3 linked regions of the Homo sapiens genome follow. The protein of the gene in region 2 interacts with the protein of the main gene of each other region in a pairwise test. Each region holds a gene or a part of one and is shown on either strand. Other genes may lie near its edges.

Region 1 (7,292 bases), on a different chromosome or scaffold from region 2:
AATCCCAGCACCTCAGGAAGCCAAGGCGGGTGGATCACGAGGTAAAGAGATCGACACCATCCTGGCTACACGGTGAAACCCCATCTCTACTAAAAATACAAAAATTAGCTGGGCATGGTGGTGTGTGCCTGTAGTCCCAGGTACTCAGGAGGCTGAGGCAGGAGAATTGCTCGAACCTGGGAGGCGGAGGCTGCAGTGAGCCAAGATTGTGCTACTGCACTCCGGCCTGGCAACAAAGCGAAACTCCATCTCAAAGAAAAAAAAAAATCTGGAGTGAGCCGGGCATGGTGGCTCACGCCTGTAATCCCAGCACTTTGGGAGGCCGAGGCGGGTGGGTTGCCTGAGGTCAGGAGTTCAAGACCAGCCTGGCCAACATGGTGAAACCCTTTCTCTACTAAAAATATAAAAATTAGCTGGGCGTGGTGGCGAGTGCCTGTAATCCCAGCTACTAGGGAGGCTGAGGCAGGCAGGATAAGCGCTTGCATCCGGGAGGTGGAGGTTGCAGTGAGCTGAGATTGTGCCATTGCACTCCAGCATGGGCAACAAGAGCGAAACTCGGTCTCAAAAAAAAAAAAAAAAAAAAAAAGGAAGAAAGAAACCTGGAGCGGGAAGAATAAGGAGATGACGGTCAAAGAATACAAAACCTCAGTTATTCAGGAGGAATGTGGGTTTTTTTTAAGTTCTACTGCACAGCATGAATATAGTTAATAATAGAGTATTGTGGCTGGGCACAGGGGCTCAAGCCTGTAATCCCAGCACTTTGGGAGGCCGAGGTGGGTGGATGACAAGGTCACGAGATCAATACCATCCTGGCTAACATGGTGAAACCCTGTCTCTACTAAAAATTTAAAAAAATGAAAAAATTAGCTGGCCGTGGTGGCGGGCGCCTGTGGTCCCAGCTACTCTGGAGGCTGAGGCAGAATGGTGTGAACCCAGGAGGTGGAGCTTGCAGTGAGCAGAGACGGCGCCACTGCACTCCAGCCTGGGCAACAGAGCAAGACTCCGTCTCAAAAAAAAAAAAAAATAAGAGTATTGTGTATCTCCAAATTGCTAGAGGAAATTTCAAATGTTCTCACAAGATGTTAAGTATTTGAGGTGATGAATGCATTAACTAGCTTCATTTAATTATTCCACATGATATTCATGAATCATAGCCATCACTTTATACCTCATAAATTTATACATTATTATAAACTGTCAATTTACAGTTAAAAAAAAAAGTTGAAGAAATCCAGGAGGAAGTCTCCATCTCCCTTTTGTTTTTTTGGCAGGGGACAGGGTCTGGCTTTGTGGCCCAGGCCGGAGTGCAGTGGCACAAGTGTAGGTCACTGCAGCCTCAACCTCCTAGACTCAAGCAATCCTCCTACCTCAGCCTCCTGAGTAGCTGGCACTACAGTTGCGTGGCCATCATGCCTGGCTAATTTGTTTACTTTTTATAGAGACGATGTTTTGCTATGTTGCCCAGACTGCTCTCCCAACGTTTTTTTTTTCTTTTGTTTTGTTTTGTTTTGTTTTTACGGAGTCTGTCACCCACGCTGGAGTGCAGTGGCATGATCTCAGCTCACTGCAATCTCTGTCTCCCGGGTTCAAGCGATTCTCCTGCCTCAACCTCCCTTGTAGCTGGGATTACAGGTGTCTGCCACCATGCCCGGCTAATTTTTTGTTTTTGTTTTTAATAGAGACGGGGTTTCGCCATGTTGGCCAGGCTGGTCTCGAACTTCTGACCTCAGGAGATCCGCCCGCCTCGGCCTCCCAAAGTGCTGGGATTACAGGCGTAAGCCACCGCGCCCAGCCTGGTCTCCAACTTCTGAGCTCAAGCAATCCTCCCACTTCAGCCTCTCAAAAAACGGTGGGATCACAGGCGTGAGCCACCATGCTGGGCCTCCATCTCCTTTTAACAAAGGAGTTAGAAAATAAAAATAAAGTAAAATAGAAGAAAAAAAAAACTCTCACAAAACCTTAAGAAAGGCCGGGCGCGGTGGCTCATGCCTGTAATCCCAGCACTTTGGGAGGCCGAGGCGGGTGGATCACCTGAGGTCGGCAGTTCGAGACCAGCCTGACCACCATGGCGAAACCCCGTCTCTATTAAAAATACAAAATTAGCCGGGCGTGGTGGCATATGCCTGTAATCCCAGCTACTAGGGAGGCTGAGGCAGGAGAATCGCTTGAACCTGGGAGGCGGAGGTTGCGGTGAGCCGAGATCGCGCCATTGCACTCCAGCCTGGGCGACAGAGCGAAACTCCGTCTCAAAAAAAAAAAAAAAAAAAAACTTTACGAAAATAGCATTTTATGGTTCTTCAGAAAAGCAAAAAACACTCCAGTGTACTTCAAAGAACACGGCTTTAAAGTCTGCCCCAAACTATTCTCTGGAAAATATCCTCAAATGACAGAAAAACAATAACATGCCAATCACAACCTTTACCTGAGCGTCCTGCGCCTCTCTCTCTGGCACCTGCAGGCACTGGGAGCGGAACACCTTCCAGCTTCGGGGTGAAGACAAAGGGCCGTGAGGGCTGCACCCCGACTCCAGCCCGCCGGCCCGCCCCAGCCCGCTGGAAAGGACACCCCTGGAGCAGCTCTGGGACTTCCCCGCCTACCTGCGCGCACCGCCGGTGCTACAGCCGGGGCAGGCGCACGCGAACACGTGCAGCAGACGGTGAAACGGGGAGCCTTCCAGCGGGCAATACACCTGCACGACCAGAGCGAGCGGCTGCCCGCAGCGCTGACACACGGGCCTGGGCGCAGCCACGGTGGGCAGAGCATCCTGAGGGGACAGAGGAGGCGCTCAGACCCCGACTCCCCCCAGGACCTCGCCCACTCCCTCCGCACCCTTCAGCAGCACCCATCGACCCCAGCTCCGGCACCCGCCCTCACCGGAATGCCGCCCAGCTTGCTAGCAGTCCAGGCACCCGGCCCTGTGGGGCTGCCGTGCACCGGCGCATCTCGAAGGCCCAGCAGCACCGGCTTCAGAACGGCCGCCATGGCCGCCGGGCGACCAGGTGAAAACGCAAACTACGGCGGCCTCTCTGCGCACGCGCAACGCTACGCTAAAATGATAACCCCGCTCCCTTACTAGGATCCGATGCGGAGGCGTGGCTTTAAGGCGCGTGCGCTCAGGTCCCAGAGCCACAGAGGCGCCGCTGGCGTCAGGGGCTCGAAATCCCGGAGTCCCAGGCATTATGTGCCCCTTAATGCGCTGTGATAGGAAGTACACACCATCTACTAGGAAGTAGTTTTGCCAAAAAGCTAACTTTCTTTTTTCCTTTTTTTCCTGAGACGAGGACTTGCTATATTGCCCACACTGGTCTTGAACTCCTGGGGTTCAAGCGATCCTCCCGCCTCCGCCTCCCAAAGTGTTGCGATTACAGGTGTGAGCCACCAGAAAAAAGCCTTCCCGGAAAATAAAAATTTTAGGTGGGATAATGGTATTATCAGTCATTAACAAGAACAATAAAGTTTTTTAAAAAGTTAAAGTTTTTAATTTTTAGAGAAACACACCAAAATGCTTATAGATGAAATACCTCCGATTTGCTACTACATAATTAAGGTGGTGGGGTGTAAATACAGTAAGATTGACCATGAGTTGATAATTGTTGAAATTTGGTGCCAGGCACATGGAGATTTATTCTATTTGGGTTTTATATGTTTGAGATTTTTCAGTTTTTATTTTTGTTTTGTTTTGTTTTGTTTTTGAGACAGAGTCTTGCTGGGTCGCCCAGGCTGAAGTGCAGTGGCGCCATCTCACTGCATCTCAGCCTCCCAGGTTCAAGTGATTCTCCTGCCTCAGCCCCACCCAGTAGCTGGGGTTACAGACGCCCACCACCACGCCCGGCGCCCGGCTTTTTTTTTTTTTTTTTTTTTAGACGGAGTTTCGCTCTTGTCGCCCAGGCTGGAGTGCACTGGCGTGATCCCAGCTCACTGCAACCTCTGCCTCCCAGGTTCAAGCGATTCTTCTGCCTTAGCCTCCCGAGTAGCTGAGATTACAGGCATGTGCCACCATGCCTGGCTAATTTTGTATTTTTAATAGAGATGGGGTTTCTCCATGTTGGTCAGGCTGGTCTCGAACTCCCAACCTCAGGTGATCCGCCCACCTTGGCCTCCCAAAGTGCTGGGATTACAGGCGTGAGCCACCATGCCCGGCCTTTTTTGTATTTTTAGTAGAGACGGGGTTTCACCATGTTGGCCAGGCTGGTTTCGAGCTCCTGAAATCAAGTGATCTGCCCACCTCGGCCTCCCAAAGTGTTAGTATTACAGGTGTGAGCCACCGCGCCCAGCCACACAATACAGTTTTTTCAATTCCTGCAGCACAACATGGGTGAATTTCAAAAGCATCATGGGAAGAAGCCAGACACAAAAGGCGCCATTCTGGTAAACGCAGAACTTCGGAGGGAAAAAAATCAGTTCAATGGTAGTCAGGAGTTGGGATGAGGGAGTAGGACTGGACCACAAGTGTCAGGAACTTTTGAGGGTGAGGAAAATGCTGTATATCTCATCTGTAATGGTTCTAAGACTGTATATACACTTGTGAAAACTCATAACTGTATACCAAAGAAAGGTGAATCTTACTATATGTAAATCACACCCCAATAAACCTGACTTTTTAAAAATGCAGGCTGCAAAAACATTATTTTAGGATTCATAACGTGGTATGCAAAAGAAATGAATGTTTTCAAGGATTTACACCTCAAAGGAGGAAGCACCAGCCTTTGTGAGGTTTGGCTCTAGCCCAGCAAGGATCTGGAGATGAAACCCATTTACTCCTTTTTTTACCACACTTCATCCTGATAGCTTTAAAAGGCCCTGTGATGCTGGGCACAGTGGCTTGCGCCTGTAATCCCAACACTTTCGGAGGCCAAGGCAGGAGGATCTCTTAAGCCCAGGAGTTGAAGATAAGCCTGGGCAACACAGTAGTATTACCAGGGGAGGATCTTGACTACAAGTCGTCCAGGTTCTTGGAATATTGAACAAAGAGGTGGACAAAACACACAAAGCAACAAAAGAAGGAACAAAAGCACAGATTTATTGAAGCAAAAGTACATTCCAGAAAGCGGGATGAGGCTCAAGCAAGTGCCCTGTGTAGAAAATCTGGGGTTTAAGTACCCTTTAGAGGTTTCCTATTTGGTTACACCCTATGTAAATAAAGACTTGGCCTGCCACCAGTCAGAGGCTGAAGTGAATGCTCCTTTGTCTCCAGACCCTATTCTCTGGCCTCAGTGGGATCCTATCACTACAAAAATTTATTTTTTATTTTTCTTATTTTTTTTTTTTTACAACAGTACACTGATCTACAAAAATTTTAAAATGAGCCGGGCGCGGTGACTCACGCCTGTAATCCCAGCACTTTGGGAGGCCAAAGCAGGCGGATCATGAGGTCAGGAGATCAAGACCATCCTGGCTAACACGGTGAAACCCCGTCTCTACTAAAAATACAAAAAATTAGCCGGGTGTGGTGGCGGGCACCTGTAGTCCCAGCTACTCGGGAGGCTGAGGCAGGAGAATGGCGTGAAGCCGGGAGGTGGAGCTTGCAGTGAGCCGAGATCACACCACTGCACTCCAGCCTGGGCAACAAAGCAAGACTCTCAAAAAAGAAAAAAATTTTTTTTTAAATGAGCTGGGTGTACTGGCATGCATCTGCGGACCCAGCTACTTGGAAGGCTGAGGTGAGAAGATCACCTTAGCCTGGGAATTTGAGGCTTCAGTCAGCTATGATTGTATCACTGCAGTCCAGCCTGGGCAACAAAGACCCTGTCTCTAAGAAAAAAAAATTTTGAATAGGCTGGGTGTGGCGGCTCACGCCTGTAATCCCAGCACTGTGGGAGGCTGAGGTGGGAGATCTCTTGAGCCCTGGAATTCAAGACCAGTCTAGTCTGGGAAACACAGCAAGACCCGCCTTGCTGGGCGCGGTGGCTCACGCCTGTAATCCCAGCACTTTGGGAGGCTGAGGCGGGCGGATCACGAGGTCAGGAGATCGAGACCATCCTGACTAACACAGTGAGACACTGTCTCTGCTAAAAAAATATATAAAAAATTAGCCGGGCATGGTGGCAGGTGCCTGTACTCCCAGCTACACAGGAGTCTGAGGCAGGAGAATGGCGTGAACCTGGGAGGCGGAGCTTGCAATGAGCTGAGACCGTGCTACTGCACTCCAGCTTGGGCGACAGAGCGAGACTCCGTCTCAAAAAAAAAAAAGACCCGTCTCTCTACAAAAAATGAAAAAACTAGCAGGGCATAGTGGTACAACCTGTAGTCTCAACTACTTGGGAGGCTGAGGCAAGAGGATTACTGGCTGCAGTGAGCTGTGATCATGCCACTGCACTCCAGTCTGGGCAATGGAACAAGACCCTGTCTCAAAAAAAAAAAAAAGTTGTCAAAAAAAAAAAAAAAATGGGCCGGGCGTGGTGGCTCATACCTGTAATCCCAGCACTGTGGGAGGCTGAGGCGGGCAGATCACCTGAGGTCAGGAGTTCAAGACCAGCCTGCCCAACATGGTAAAACCCCTTCACTACTAAAAATACAAAAATTAGCTGGGTATGGTGGTGTGCGCCGTGTAATCCCAGCTACTCGGGAGGCTGAGGCAGGAGAATAGCTTGAACCCGGGAGGCGGAGGTTGCAGTGAGCCGAGATTGCACCACTGCACTCCAGTCTGGGTGACAGAGCGAGACTCAAAAAAAAAAAATTCCAGTTTTCAATATCTGCCTTTTAAAGCAAAAGAACTACCTGAGCGTCTTGCCAGGAGATGGCAGTCATCCTCGGTCTTGTCCAGGAATTCACCCGAAACAAACATAATCTCAATGCAGTTTTTAGAACCATCGAGTGAACAGAGTATCCAATTTCTGCAGTCACAGAGGTGAGGAGTGGAAAACAGTCTTGGGATTTGGTGACACAGGCCAAGTTGCCGTCCTGACTGATTGTGCCCCCACCCCACTATTGTCTTCTCAGGGCACCTTGCTCCACTCTAGACCCGCTCACCACTTAGTGTTAAGTGTCCGCAGAGGCACAGCCTGCGTCCTGCTGAGCGCTCCTGCCCTCTGCTACATAAAGCACCATCACAGGAAAAAAAAAATCAGAGGCTGAGCCTACAACCTCCTCCGTGGCATCTTTATTTTTCTACATGGGATGTGAACAACGTGAACATGGGTCAGAAAAGTCAGCTGCACAAAAACACTTCAGCCAATTCTAACACAGAGGGAGCATAGACATGGAGGGGCTGGGGGTTAGGCTGGGGGAGACCAGCCTTCCCTGCTAAGGGCTCGTGGTCCAAGCCCACAACCAGAGGGTGCTCTGGGTGGTGT
Region 2 (7,255 bases):
AAAAGGTAAGGGAGGAATAAGACAATAAGGGAGAGAGAGGAAAGAAATGAGAGATGAAAAGGGAGAAGGAAGAGGGGAGGGAAAGAGGGAAATAGGAAGAGTAGGAGAGAGAGAGAAAATGAAAGCAAATGAAGAGAAAACCTCCATTTTCCTAGTACAACTCCTTCCCTCAAGACACCCTCTATTCCAGTCTAGCCGCTCTTTCACCCATCTGCCTCCCACTCTTGTGTCCCCTGGTCTTCACTTACCCCCCAGAGCTTCATCTGTGCTTGGAACACACGGTTACCATCAAAGACAATGTGGACATGAAGCTGAGAGAAAAGAATTACAGGGGTAGTAACAAACCCAGAAGGTCAGAATAGGTCATTACGACAGATAACCAGGTCAGAGGTATGATCCACAGGTTGGCCAGACAGCCCTGACCTAATAACTCTCCTTTCCTCTAAGGGTACTATGGAGCCTACAGGTTAACAGCAAATGGCAACTCTGCCTGTGAGATTGTAGTATCACCCAATTGACTATCCTCCCATCCAACATCAGATCATTGCTCACCTCAGTTTGACTGGCCTTCACCCAGTTAAACGCAGGAAGTGGAATCTGGCCATATACAGTCACCACTACTAAGGAATCTGTCTGGTGCCAATCATGGCGGCAAGATGCTGGGAGCTAAAGAGAAGATGTGAAATGCAGGTGGTAAGAATAAATTCTTAACTGAAGGGGAGTTCTCATGATGCACGTGGAGAAGAGACAGAGAGTCTCAAAAAGATTAACACAACCTCATATTGCAAAACCTCTGGGCTGTTGAGGGATAAGGAGCAGAATCTTATTTGGTCTATACTAAAGGGAGAAGACAGGGAGCTTGGCTATGTGGTACAGAGAGGGAGGAGAATTTACCTCTGAGATTGGGTTCTAATCAAGAGTTCAGGAAAGCTGGGGCTTACCTGCTTCCCCCAGTCATGTCTACCGACTCTGCACCCTGGTTGTGCCAAGAATGCCCCAAAATCCAGGGTCTGGATGCCACAACAGCTCCAAGACTTCATCCTGAAGTAGGAAGATAATTCAACTGAATTCTCTCACCCCCAATATTATCTTATGACCAAATATTAGGAGAAACCTGTCTCATAGCCTCATAGCCCACCCAGTCCCCTCCCTCACCCCTCATGGAATCGGGGTGCTCCTGGGTGGTAGGTACATGGAGTAGCATCACTCTCAGGGCCTTGGTAAACCTAAGAAGGATAAAGTAGAACCAGGTCATTCTAAGGTATATCCTACTCAGCCTATCTATACCCAGTCATCCCTCAGCCATATGCTTGAGCCCCTCAAAACTCTCACTCACAGCATCACATCCTGGGTTCTGGCAGCTGGAACCAGTCCGGATCAGACTGTCAAGTCCTGGGCAAGGGAAACAGAGTCAGGAACTTATCCATCCCCCCACTCAATTGCCACTTCCACTAAATTCCAGTCTATGAAGTTGATCCTACTAAAGACCCACCTACCTGCCCCAGGTTCCTGGTCTAATTCCTTCTGTTCCAATGCCATTTCCAGGGCTTGGGATATATTTAGCGGCAGCAGCTTCAGAGGCAACTCTGACCTAGGGGTTAAGGGTGGTGATTTAGTTCTGACCCATTAGCTATGATTGCTAGCTCCAACACTCCCACCGATGGTAATGGAATTAAAGAAGCCTGGTGAAAGTGAGGCAGAGTTGGAGAGGTTGGGTAGCAACCCCATTGCCAATTTTCATCTCTGTGGACATCCCAAATACCTGAACCCTAGAGAAATCCCCAGCACTTCTCTTACCCATCTACTCAGTTGCTCTAAACCTAACCACTTTTCTCTGCAGAACTGAGTCATATCCTCTTCCTCTTTATCTAATCGTGGACCTAATATGACTTCCTTCTGTTGCTCTTATTATTCCCACAAAATTTGGGAAGTCTCCTGGCTGCCAATAATACAATACATCCTTTTCTTGATATGAGATTTATCTTAAAGTTCTTTTCTAGAAAGAGAAGTCATTCTCAACAATCCCTTTTGTGTTATACACTAAGGATGTATTTGTGAGGGGCTATCTACTCTGTTGATTCAGGTATCTATCCCATCATCCCACACCACCTTAGAGGAAAGGGCGTTATTTCCAGACACAAATTTCCCCTAAGGCACAGGATATACACCATCCAAACCCTGACATCTGGCCCTCCTCACATCCCTGGTCCCTAGTTCCCAGTCCTCAATGACCCATTAATCACTCCTAGGAAGCTACATGAAAATAAGAAAAGTCCAGGGGCCTCCTCCTCTTTACTTGGGCCTCTCCCGGCGCAAGGTCTCTGCTGACTTTGGAATCACATTCAGAGGTTTTTGCTCCTGAAGTGAACTGCTTGTAGCAGGGCCTTCAGGTTGAGGGGCCTCAGGAAGCTTCTCAGCACAGTGTGGTCCCATAGTACAGCCCTAGTATAGATAAGGAGATAGGATTAGGGATAGAATCCTTCTATTGGGGGCAGAATCCAAGTACATAAATAATTTACCTTGATGTTTAAGAACTCAGAGAAATCTACAGTTCGCTTTCGGCAGCAGGACCAACCCTGATAACAAGAGACCCAGATCAGCTTAGCTTCCTGGGTATTATCTCTTCTGGGAAATGCTCTTGCTAACCCCCCTCACCTACTCCTCACCTTAAGTGCATCATGGAAGATTGGGACCCCAGGGTGATGGCAACAGGAATCTGTGGACATCAGTAGAAGTTATCAAGGAAGGGAAGATAACTATACCAAGTATCATTTTTCACCTCTTCCCCGGGTTTCTATTTATGGTTTCTTCCCATATAATGTGAAGAAAAAAAAAAAAGCCAGCAAAGGCTGTAAGATCACTCAGACCAATTAAACTAGGGCAGGTAGTTTCTTTCCCCGCTCCTCAAACACACTGCCCCCCAGCTGACCAGTCCCCAACACCCACACAGAGCCCCTGGCCAGGTCAGGATTCTTTACTCACCAGGAAGGTTGGTATTAGGGTCAAAGTGCTGCCCACAGCCTTTGTTACGACAGAGTAGAGACATGGAAGCGTTGGTTGAATGATTACTGAAAGGGTATTTCAAGGAGTCTGGCTGCCGAATGGGGAACACCTCTTAGTCTGGAGGCTTTTAGCTGCCTGGAAGGGCCAGCTGTTTCTATCTTTAGTTCAGGAGGCGTACACCTCCTAACATGGGCAAGGGAACTTCAATTCGTCTTTCCAGCCAATAGGAAAGAGCTCGGGGGCATTTTAGCTCTGAGGCTCAGGAAAAAAGGATCAGGCAGAGTAGGGCTTTGAACTTGGGTGAGGTCAGCTCACCACTACTGAGACAGTTTTAGATTCACCACAGCAATTCCAAGCCTTGGACACAGCAGCAGCTGCTAAGAAACAAATACCAATTTTGAGACCCCCCCCGCGCCCCCAGCTCGATGAGGATTAAGCCCATTTTCTTCCTCTTTCAGAGGGGCAGCTTTCCTCCATCATTACTTCCATGTAGTATCAATAGCGCTAATCCTTGCCAACCCCTCCAGCCATTTGATGCACCTCATCCCCACCTCCTCCCCATGTTTGTCTAGATCAATACTGTAATCCAAAGGTCATAAAGGATTACCTTTATAGAGTCTACTGCTCATCTCCTAAGATAACTCCCCTCCCTCCTTTCCCCTTCAAAAACACCACAGAAAATTAAAAGGCTTAAAATGTATTTTAATAGGTTGATGCTGCATTACTGCTCCATTTTTCAGAAAAACTCCAAATATATGAGACAAATCAAACACAGTACACCAATGAAAAAAAAAATGCACAGCATGACTACCTAAGATAGGCGAGTCTAAGAGCTACTGTCAGACCTTCAGTATACAGTAACCCTGTTCCCAAGATTGTACTAGGCCTATCAAGAAAAGCTGTGAACAGCAACATCATAGACACAAAAGGGTCATTCCTGGGTGTCCTCACCCAAGAAAAAGATGGAGGCAAGTTAACACAAGATTTTTTTTTAAAGATACACTAAAATGAAAATCTCTAAGAGAAAATGTCTTCTTTAGGACATGAAGGGGTAATATATGGGGTATAACAGAACCGTATGTACGCTGCCTGTGACCTTTGTGGACGTTTGCCTGAATTCTCACCTGGGAGTGAATGGAGCAATGGGGCTAAGGTCATTGGGGGATGTTTGGTTTTTGTGGTGTATGTGGCAGTTTCTCTGGGGCTGGGGGAGTGTAAGGATAAGAAGCAAGTGAGGTTGGGCACGGTGGCTCACCCCTGTAATCCCAGCATTTTGGGAGGCCGAGGTGGGTAGATCACGAGGTCAGGAGTTCAAGATCAACCTGGACAAGCTTGAACCCGGGAGGCAGAGATTGCAGTGAGCCGAGATCATGCCACTACACTCCAGCCTGGGCGACAGAGTAAGACTCCGTCTCGGGGGCGGGGCAAGCAAATGAAACAAGATGGACAAAAAAAAAAAAAACCGGAATGATCAAGATTAATGGGCTCTAACTGGATCCACTTTGCCATGGTTTCCCCAGGCCCTCAACAGTCACATTAGAGACTTCAGGAATGCACCACACAGAACTGATTAAACAATATACCACACAGAATTGACTTGTTTAATACCACCCCTCCCTTGCCCTCTGCCTCCAGCATACTCCCTAGAGTAGTACAGGCAGGGTAGATCTAACTATTGGAAGGAATCCCTAACACTTTTCCAGGGTAGAATTCTGGCTAGTCCAAAAAGGGTCCTTCTTTTAAGGGTTTTGAGAAACTAGACACTGCAACTTATTAGTATCGGCGACGTTTGTTTGGGGCAAATTCAGCTCCAGGAGCTGCACGGTTGAATGCAGGAGGAGTTCCACCAATTGCCCCAATTCCTTCCATTGTAGCAGCCTGACCAAAGCGTTCAGTTGTTGGTGGGGTCTTAAAGAGAAAAAGAGAGCAACACTGTAACAGAGCCATTGTTGGAAGCTTCCCACCCATCTGTAGTCCCTCCACTGGAGGCTATTTCCATTCAACTATTCAAGGCTCCTGATGGTAGGTAGGAGTGGGTGACTAAGTCTGTTTAGAACTCTAGTGGATAACCCCAAAAGTGGTGGCGCATGCCTGTAATCCCAGCTACTCAGGAGGCTGAGGCAGGAGAATCGCTTGAACCTGGGAGGCGGAGGTTGCAGGGAGCCAAGATTGCACCACTGCACTCCAGCCTGGGCGACAAGAGCAAAACTCTGTCTCAAAAAGAAAAAGAAAAAAAGAAAAACAAAAACAGAAACAACCAAACTATCCAGTTTTGGCATTTTAACACCATAACCAAAACAACCCCAGGATTGCATGAGCCATGAAGTATTTGGATTCACAACTATTTTATGTGATAATGCCTAGCCTTCATTGACTTCCCTCCAACAAACATAGTCAATCAGACTGGCCAGTCAGACGGTGGCATTTACTTAACTCCTAGATTAAGTATAGAGACTGAGTTTGCTCAAGATTCAAAAATAAAGACCTTGAGGTTACATTTAATGGATACCAGCAGTCCTAAAGATTGCTATCTGGGCCGGGCTTGGTGGCTCACGCCAGTAATCCCAGCACTTTGGGAAACCGAGGCGGGCAGATTATCTGAGGTCAGGAGTTCAAGAACAGCCTGACCAACGTGGTCAAACTCAGTCTCTAATAAAAATACAAAATTGGGAGGCCGAGGCTGGTGGATCACCTGAGGTCAGGAGTTCGAGACCAGCCTGGCCAACATGGTGTAACCCCATCTCTACTAAAAATACAAAAATTAGCCGGGCATGGTGGCAAGCACCTGTAGTCCCAGCTACTCGGGAGGCTGAGGCAGGAGACTCGCTTGAACCCGGGAGGTGGAGGTTGCAGTGAGCCAAGACCATGCCATTGCACTCTAGCCTGGGCAACAAGAGGGAAACTCTGTCTCCAAAAAAAAAAAGACTGCTATCTATAGCAAACTGAGGTAGGCCCCCAGGGGCTGTGAAAGCAATGCCTGTTCTCCTCCTACCACCATTTAGAATTACTGTTAAGGCACTGCAGTTTTATTACCAATCCCAAAGTTCCATCCGGCATCATAGTGGCAGGTCCTGGAGGAGCTGGGGTACCAGCTGGCACAGGAGCAGGGGGCATGGCACCTCTGTTGTTTATGCCCATAGCACCTAAGGCAGAGTAGTGTGATCAGCACAAGGGATAAAGATTGTTAGTCTCTTTCTATGCCAAAGGAAACAATTCAACAAGACCTCTGGGCTAAGTAAGACATATATGTCACCCCCTTAAAGTAGGCAGCAGAAGCTACATAGTTCACCCAAGACCAAACAAAAAAGGAAATCAGAGCCATTAACCTCCTAAGTCCTTACCTCCCATAGCCATCTGACCCATCCGAATCTCCTGCTCTCTCTGAAAAACAAAAAATACTCAAGACAGTCCAAGACAGCAGTGCATTCTACCACAATCCATCAAGGACCACACACTAAGGGAAGTAGATAGAGTGATAACACGTCCAAACAGCACTGAGAAAGCTGAGGAGCACAACCCTTGCTAGTTGTGCAACAAATTCAAGGTCACAGAGCTACTAGGACGTAAGCCAGAGCCTCCTATTAGCAACAGAGAGGTGAAAGGGGGAAGAGATTGCTTCTGAAGCTCCAACTTGTACAATTGCAAGGACAGCAGAGGACTAGCCAAGGTTGCATATCTCTTCCTATAGTCACTGAGTCTAAACAGAATACAGCAGACCCAGTTTTTCATCCTATATTGCTTGTGAGGCAAGATCTCCTCTTCAAACCTTACCTCTCCTTCTTATGAATTCTTTTTTCTAAAGGGTTATTTCACAACACGGGAAAATTGGTCATAACCGGTAACCTAGCAGACAATTCATGGTGAGTTTATCAGGACTGGTCTGGTACATCACGGGCACATGGGAGATATACCGCATCAGGGAAGGTTCCCTTGAATCCTTCCTGCTGTCGCCGCATCATTTCTTCTTGCTGCCGCCGCATCTCTTCTTCACGGCGCCTGCGCTCTTCCTCCTGCCTACAGAGAGTCACCAATGTATTTAAGACAGAGGCATTTCAGAACTTGAGCAGATTAACAGGAGACTCAACCAAGGAGACTGGCCTACTGAAAACTATCAGTTCACCAGGAAACTCACTGTTAAGTGTGCCCAGCCCTGAGGCAACCCCCAAAGAAACCTCATGAGACCAGCATTCAGCTGCTTTCTTTTTAGCAGGTAACTTCTAGGACCATGGGCAGCTAAAACATCTCCAATCCA
Region 3 (7,103 bases), on a different chromosome or scaffold from region 2:
GCCAAGTCTCAGAGGTCAGGGAAGTGGGAGTGGCCAGAGGAAAGAGGGCCACAGCCATAGGGTAGGACCGAAGTGCTCCTGCCCAAGCCAAGGATGGCAGCCTACCTTCCTTGGACATGCCCACTTCGAAGCACTTCTGTAGCCGGCAGTACTGGCAGCGATTCCTGGTCACCTTGTTGATGATACAGTTTTTGTCGCGGTGACACGTGTACACCATGTTCTTCTGGATGCTTCGGCGAAAGAAGCCCTGGAGTTGAGGGAAAGAGAGAGGGCCTCTGAAGCACAATGCTGGGAGTACCAGCCTCTCACTGGCCTTGCAGGTTGCCCCAAGCCTGACCTAATCTATTAACCACCTATGTGCAAAGCAGTGCTGCTCAGACACAGCATCTGTGTGCCTGGTCTCTCATCTTACTAGGGTAACTGGATCCCCCGTCTGCCCACTCCCACCACGTACACACCTTGCAGCCTTCACAAGAGCTGACCCCATAGTGGTAGCCAGAGGACTTGTCATTGCACACGAAGCATGGCTTGTAGACCCGAGGAGGCGGAGGGGGCGAGGGCGAGCTGGGCACCATCTCCTCTGAGCTGGTGCTCTGTGTCTCCACCGCTGGGAGGGAAGCAGTGATGTGAGGGTCAGGGGAGAAGGACCCCACAGACCTCCAGGCTTCCTCATCACACACACCCCATGTGCATTTGTTCCTTGGCCCACTGGTGACAGCCATCACTACCACAGTGCACTAGTTCCAGCAGTAAGCACTGTCAGAATCCTCTTAATGACCACTATTACCACAGCTTGTTGTGACCCTAGTTCACCCTCTACCCTCCACAGTCTAACCAACTTGTTCACAAGAATGCCAGCCCTCATCCTATATGACATGTTTAATCCTCCAAATTCCAGACCAAGGCCATTCCGGAAATTGACTTCTCTGGGCCTGTTTCCCTAACTATCCAGGAGGTGGGTAGAAGAGTTAAAGCCCTGCAGCTCTGAGCTCTCTAGTCACTCTCTGTCTCTTTGGTATATCTTTGTCAGGTAGTCTACTTCCCACTGTCCTCCCTGTGGGGCAATAACTCTGGGGGCAGGTAGGCAATGACAGGCTTCCTGTAGCTGCTACTGGCCAAATGACCTGCTGGGATGCTTAGCAGGTAAACCAGGACCTCATTTCCTTTCCAGTAGTACAGGGGGGATAACTCCTCAGGCTTATCTCTCTCACACTACCCCTGAATAACCATCAGAGACAGTGGAGCAAATGGGGCAAAGGTCTCAGGGGAGTGAGTGAGAGGATGCACCACAGCCTTGGTTCACGCCTGAAGAAACTGAGGCCACGAGAGGGGAAGTGACCAGCTCAGTGCCACACCACCAGCAGATCCAAGTGGCTGTGAGTCAGAGAAGCTGGGGAAGCAGAGGCTGAGGTGTTTGCTCAGTTTCTCAGGTCTGGAAGCCGTTGGAGGTGTAGCAAACTGGAGAAGTCAGGTGACAGTAGGTAAACAGGACTGATGGGGGAGGGAACCTGTTTCTGGACCCTCTCTGAGCTTATGTCTTCACTCTGAAAATACCCAATTGCAGCTCAAAAGGGGTCTCAGCCCCACAGTATGGGGAGGACATGCTCTGCTCTGTTCAAAAGGCTGCTGGGTAAGTGTGTGTGTGTGTGTGTGTGCGCGCGCGCGCGCGCGCGCGTGTGGTTGGTCTTCAGAGGCTCGGAAAATTTGTAAATTATTCAACCTGTAGGACCTGTTGCCCAAACCTGGAGGGCCCAAGTTAATGCAAAAAAATTCCTAAGACCCTCCCTAAGGTGTGTCCCACGCACCCACCTCATGAACACCTTCTCCCTTCTAACCCTCTGCAGCCCACCTGGTCAGAAGCCCGCCCCAACGCAGCCAGAAGGGCGGAAGGAATGCCCAGGATGCCAGGGTTCCACGCTAGCTCCACCCACCCCACAGGAGGGAAGCCCTACCCACCCCCAACACACATACAATCAATTAGCATAAGAATCCTGCCAGAGTGAGATTACCCAAAGAAAAAGGAGAGAGGAGAGGGGGGAAAGAAGGGTGCCTGGAGTCTATTCAAGACTAGGGATGGGGGCTCCAGGAGGGGCTGGTGCTGAGAGATGTGAGGAGGGCTGGAACGCCTTTCCCAACCTCTCCTCACTCCTCAGACCCACCACTGTGTCCTCCAAGGGCACGTGTTCTGCCCAAGGCCTGTGCGTGGGGTGGTGCTCACTCTGGCACTGACGCCCTCCCTGCCCGCAGAGCGCTGCCTCATTTCCTCTCTTGCGCAAGGGCCTGGGTGCGGTCAGACTGGCATGGGGCAGTGCCAGCCAATTATAAGACTGGGGGCCTTAGGGAGACAGGCCCGGGGGCAACTTTTCCTGTCTAAGTGATACTGTCACATCCCCACCCCCTGAACCCTAAAGTGCAGCCTAGTGGCTCCGAGGTCAATCTGTGAGGTCAAGGCCCCAGAAAGCTAACTGGGTCTACTCCAATCAGATCCCCTCCCCAGACTCGGGCTTAGACCCCACCATTGGGATGCAGCTCCTGGGTTAGGCAGGGGCCCCTGCTGGGGAGGATGGGGGTGGGCTCTGGGGTTTTCTCCTTTTAAAGCCCAAATTGCTGAAATTGAGGAAATTCCTGACCAGGCTGCGCGGAGCTTCAAACAAACTCTTTATAACCGGCTGTAAACGCTCCCAGCTGCGAGGCTCAGAGCTGAGCAGCCTGGACTCACAATCTAGCACACACCTCCTTGGAGACACACACACTCACAGGTTAACAACACATAAGGCACCAAAGCAGGCATATTACAATGGGATCCTAGAACCCTCACTGGATTCTGGCACAGACACACAGCCAGAATAGAGACACACTCACTCCAGCTACACCGTGGAGGTAGATGTACCAGTCACAAGGCTGACACACAACAGCCAGCACTTGGCCACACAAGGGAACAGCCCTACCACCAGACAAACACCCCAGCCTGCCAACGCAGCACCAGGACACCAAAGCCTCCAAACAGGCACACACACACACACATCCAGCCCACCTCCACCCCCCAAGCACCCTTCCCTCTGAAAGTGTGTGCGGGCAGGCCTGAAGCTGGCTTTGTGTGTCCACCAGGATCCCAGAGGCCAAAATTATTGGTCCCAATTAAAACTCAAAAACCTAGGGCCAGTCAAGCCCAAAGGGCTTCTTCCATAGGCCTGAAAAAAGACAGGGTCTCTGCCCAGCCCCCAGAAGCCCTTCCTGAAAGATTCTTTCCATCTCAGCACCCCCACAACATATAACATACCCCAACTCCCCATCCTATTGGGCAATGAGAGGAAAGTTAAGAATTCACAGGGATTTGGTGCAAAGCAATAGTTCCATGCTTTCTCGGTTCTTTAAATGACACACTTTTAAATTCTTCCCCCACCCCACCCAAAAGTAAAGTCAAGTCCGGTCTCCTGGTTTGCCATCTCCCTCTTCCAGCTTCCCAGTTGTTAAATTTGAGCAGCTCTGCTCTGGAACCAAAAAAAAAAATCCGAACTTGTAAACAGCACTGCTTGGTGCCAAGGAGCGAGGCGCGTTGGCGGGGGCTTGGTGACCTGGCGTGCGCACTCCCCCAGCGCCCGCCGCCCCGCCCGCTGCCCGCCCCTTCCCACCCTTCCCAGCGTGCCCCCAAGCCCCTCATCCCCGGGCCGTCCGCACCCAGGCAGCGAGCACATCCCAGCCCAGGGTAAATTTGGGGGGTGTTCCAGGCTGCGCTCCTGGCCCCTCCCCACACCCCACCCCCGCCAGGCACTGCGGCCCAAGCTTCAAAGCCGCCTCTCATCTGGACTTCATTTTTACTGCCTCTCAGTCCCCAGCTTTTTATTACTGCTCTGGAAAGGGGTTCCAGGGCCCCAGGCCTGGCATCTCCCATTTCACGGAGGGGGAAGATAGATATTTGGGGACCCAGTAATGGTGCTCGCCCTGCCGCTGTCAACTTCAGGCCACCCCCCACCACACACACAGACTTTGCTTTAAACTTTTCGCTTCCTGCTGAAGTTGTTGTGTGTTGGAGCCATAGGAAAAAGTAATCTCTGCATATAACCGCATACACGTTTCCAAACATTTCTTTTTTTATATGGGGGTGGCGTACAAAACTCAGCCTTCTCCCTCTTGTGTGCACAACCTTTTCCACCCGGCATGAGAACACACAGGATGCACTCTCGAACACAGCACTTTCCAAAACCGCCCCCGCAGCCACGCAGGGGCACACGCCCTCCCGGCCTCACGCCACAAACATCCCCTCACAGGCCATGTGGACCTGGCAGCTGTCGCAGGCGACACTGGTGGAGAGACCCTTGCTCCCACACCCACACCACCTAGGCAAGGCGCTGCACACTCCAGGGATTCACACGCTCTGCAAACGATATTTTTAACACTGCCAGCTTCCCACATGGGCTTTACAAACGCCACCCACGGTCCTGAGTGTCATATCCTTCCAGGGCCACGGACGTGAAGGCGCAAACTACCCACACACCTCGGTCTCTCCCTATCCCCAGGAACTCTGGAGTGGCATCAACCACAGGTTCGAGCTAAACACCCACCATAAAAACCACACACACTCCAAACACTACTGCACACACGCAAAGGAGACGCTGAGGCCCCCACGTTTAAAGGGCCAGTACCTTACATAGAAAGGGCCAGAAGCTCCTCCTTGCACCTCAGTTCCACTCTTTACACACGGAAAGAGTAAATCCCACCCTCTCCTGCACCCTACACCCCAGCCCCGGACTCCGGTACCTACATTGCAGGCTGGCGGGTTGCGGCCAGGCAAAAGATTCAAGTCCGGCGAAACAGGAGCCGCCGGTGGCTCTGCGCAGCAAGCCGGCCCCGGGCCCGGCCGCCCCGTACAGCCGTCGCGGACCCGGGGCAAACGTTTCCATACAGTCGTACATCGCGACCCGGCTTGAAGGGAAACTGGGTGCTGGAAACACCAAGGACCCGCAGCCGATTCCCCCTCCTCCCCCGGCGGCGCCCCGCTCCAGCAGGGGGGGAGGGGGAGGGCTAGCATAGGGCGCTGGGCTGCATGCGGGTAAGGGGTGGGCGGGGAAGAGGGGGGATCCCCAGCAGGGGAAAGGGACTGGGCGGGGCGCGAAGCTGGGGCTGCCGCTTTAGCCTCCGTCCAGCTCTTATCTGGGTGCTTCGGCAGCTAGCACTGGGGAGACCTTTTTTAAAAGCGAAGCCTGGAGGGGTGGGGGGTGGGGCTTGGAGAGCGAAGGGGGCCGGGCACCGAGATGAGCAAAGCTGAGAGTGGAGCGCACACATACACATACGTACACTCGCTCCGCGGCGCGCGCGCTTGCTTAGACACACATCCGTGCATGCATTTATCTTATCAGGCACCAAGAATTTGCAAATATGCAAGAGTGAACATACATGTGAGCACGCATATAAAATCATAGGTGCACACACGTTTGTGCAAACACACCTTGCTCGGGAGAATGCTTGCAGGCATACTCTCCACAGCTCATAGGCTTTGCATGCATTTGCACTGAGGCGCGTGCCCAGGTCGGGGTTGGAAGAAGGAGAGGAGGAACCAAGCATAAGCATTTCCTTTCAGAGTTTTCCCTCTCCCCAAACTCTCCCTTTTTCACACTAGTCAATACAGGGGTGTTAAGGATGACTGGGGAGAGGGGAACGTGGAGGTCCCCGCGCGCAGCTGCTCTCCTGAGGCTCGGGACCTGCACTACCTCCACCCCTCTCATTCCCAGGCCTGGCTCCGCCCTCGCCCTCCGCGCGCCCGCTTCAGGGCCGAAAAGTGCATTCCTGCGGCTCGGCGCGCGCTGCCTCCTCCTTCCTTCCCGTCTCCCCACCCGCGGTCCTAGGGCCGGAGCGCGCTCCCGCCGTGAACTCTCTGGGAACCCCCCTCGGGGCGGGTGGCCGAGCGCGCTCACCTCCTCCTGACCCGGCCCCGCCCCACCCCGCCCAGGCCGTCTTCAGCGCTGCCGCGGAGTCCCCCCGCCCCCTCCAGCGCAGCCAGAGTCTACCCCTCCTAGCCCGAGCAGTCCGCCCTCCGCCGCGGCCCGGGCCGCCTCCCTCCGAGTCCCCGAAGCCTTATCCCGCAACTGACGCCCCCTAAGCGCCTCGACCGTCTCTCTCGATGCTCCTTCTTCGAACATAACTTCACTTTTAGAGCACAAAACTACCCCATAAGCTGTGCCTGCCGTGCCAACTGCGCCTCGATGAATCTGCCCCTGATGGCCAACTCCCCTCCTCCAGTTTCTCACTGCCAAGGGCTCCCTCGGCAATAGGGGCGCTTCTGGTCACTGACTGTTCTCAGGGTCTTTAAATACCCTCTAGCCTAGGCATAACTGCCCTCCCTTCGGTTAGTGCCCCTCAGCTCTCCAAGGCCGCAACACTGTTCCCTGGGTTGCCCCTTCCGGCACTGAGCGCCCTCGCCCGGCGGAGAAGGGGGTGAGGTGGGCGGGGGGCTGGCCACGTCAGAAGTTTGCCCTGGCCCGGCAGGGCCGAATGGGGGGACCCTGGCCCCGGACAGCGCCAGCAGCGGCGACTCCCGGAAATCCCCCCCTCCCCCGCGCCCCGCCCTCAGCCGCCGGGCCGCCCGGCCTGCCTGCCCAGCCGGCTCTGTCAGCGCCGCTCACACGGGCAGCGCCGCGGAGCGGGAGCGGCGCCCGGCCCGGCCCTTCCCCCGCCAGGCGGCTGTGGCTGGGCCAGGGCGGGGCGCGCTTTTCTAAGAATCTGTTGTACCGGGTGGGGGGCGCACTGGGGTGCTGCAGGAGTGGGGCGCCTGTTGGAAGAATAAAGGGCAGGAAGGGGTGCCAGAGTAGGCGAGGGATGGCGGGCGCGGGGGAGGGGCGGGGGGCTGCCGGGGCTGGGAAAAGGCCTGACTTGTGGATGGCGAGGAAACCTCGGGGTGGCAAGGCTGACTAGGGGGCTTGAAGCAGGGATGGAGAGGGAATGCACTGCTCTTTCCAACCCAGTGTAAACTCCCTTCTCCTCCCCCAACCCCAAATACCCATTTCTGAATCCAGTCACCCGAACCCCACAAAAAAAAGAAAGAAAGAGAGAGAAAGAAAAGAAAGAGAAAGAAAGAAGAAAGAAAAAGGAAGAAAGAGAAAGGAGGA

Evidence for each region.
Region 1: the proteins of ITGB1BP2 (region 2) and PDCD2L interact in binary tests that used the Homo sapiens proteins (3 or more experiments, as listed by UniProt).
Region 3: the proteins of ITGB1BP2 (region 2) and RARG interact in a two-hybrid assay, tested with the Homo sapiens proteins (one study listed by BioGRID).

What each region holds. Positions count from the first base shown.
Region 1 is NC_000019.10:34,400,121-34,407,412, reverse strand, and holds the start of PDCD2L (programmed cell death protein 2-like), read right to left. Parts: upstream 3,015-7,292; 5' UTR 2,983-3,014; coding exon 2,875-2,982; intron 2,765-2,874; coding exon 2,598-2,764; intron 2,484-2,597; coding exon 2,423-2,483; intron 1-2,422. UniProt on the Homo sapiens protein: Over-expression suppresses AP1, CREB, NFAT, and NF-kB transcriptional activation, and delays cell cycle progression at S phase.
Region 2 is NC_000023.11:71,297,598-71,304,852, reverse strand, and holds the start of ITGB1BP2 (integrin beta-1-binding protein 2), read right to left. Parts: upstream 3,104-7,255; 5' UTR 3,047-3,103; coding exon 2,983-3,046; intron 2,717-2,982; coding exon 2,667-2,716; intron 2,577-2,666; coding exon 2,520-2,576; intron 2,443-2,519; coding exon 2,297-2,442; intron 1,592-2,296; coding exon 1,497-1,591; intron 1,393-1,496; coding exon 1,337-1,392; intron 1,227-1,336; coding exon 1,156-1,226; intron 1,042-1,155; coding exon 942-1,041; intron 667-941; coding exon 553-666; intron 312-552; coding exon 249-311; intron 1-248. Other genes in the region: NONO (non-POU domain-containing octamer-binding protein), read right to left, coding at 4,777-4,911, 6,037-6,146, 6,345-6,384, 6,915-7,017. UniProt on the Homo sapiens protein: May play a role during maturation and/or organization of muscles cells.
Region 3 is NC_000012.12:53,215,188-53,222,290, forward strand, and holds part of RARG (retinoic acid receptor gamma), read right to left. Parts: intron 5,176-7,103; exon of another isoform or gene 5,030-5,175; coding exon of another isoform or gene 4,763-5,029; intron 608-4,762; coding exon 459-607; intron 248-458; coding exon 106-247; intron 1-105.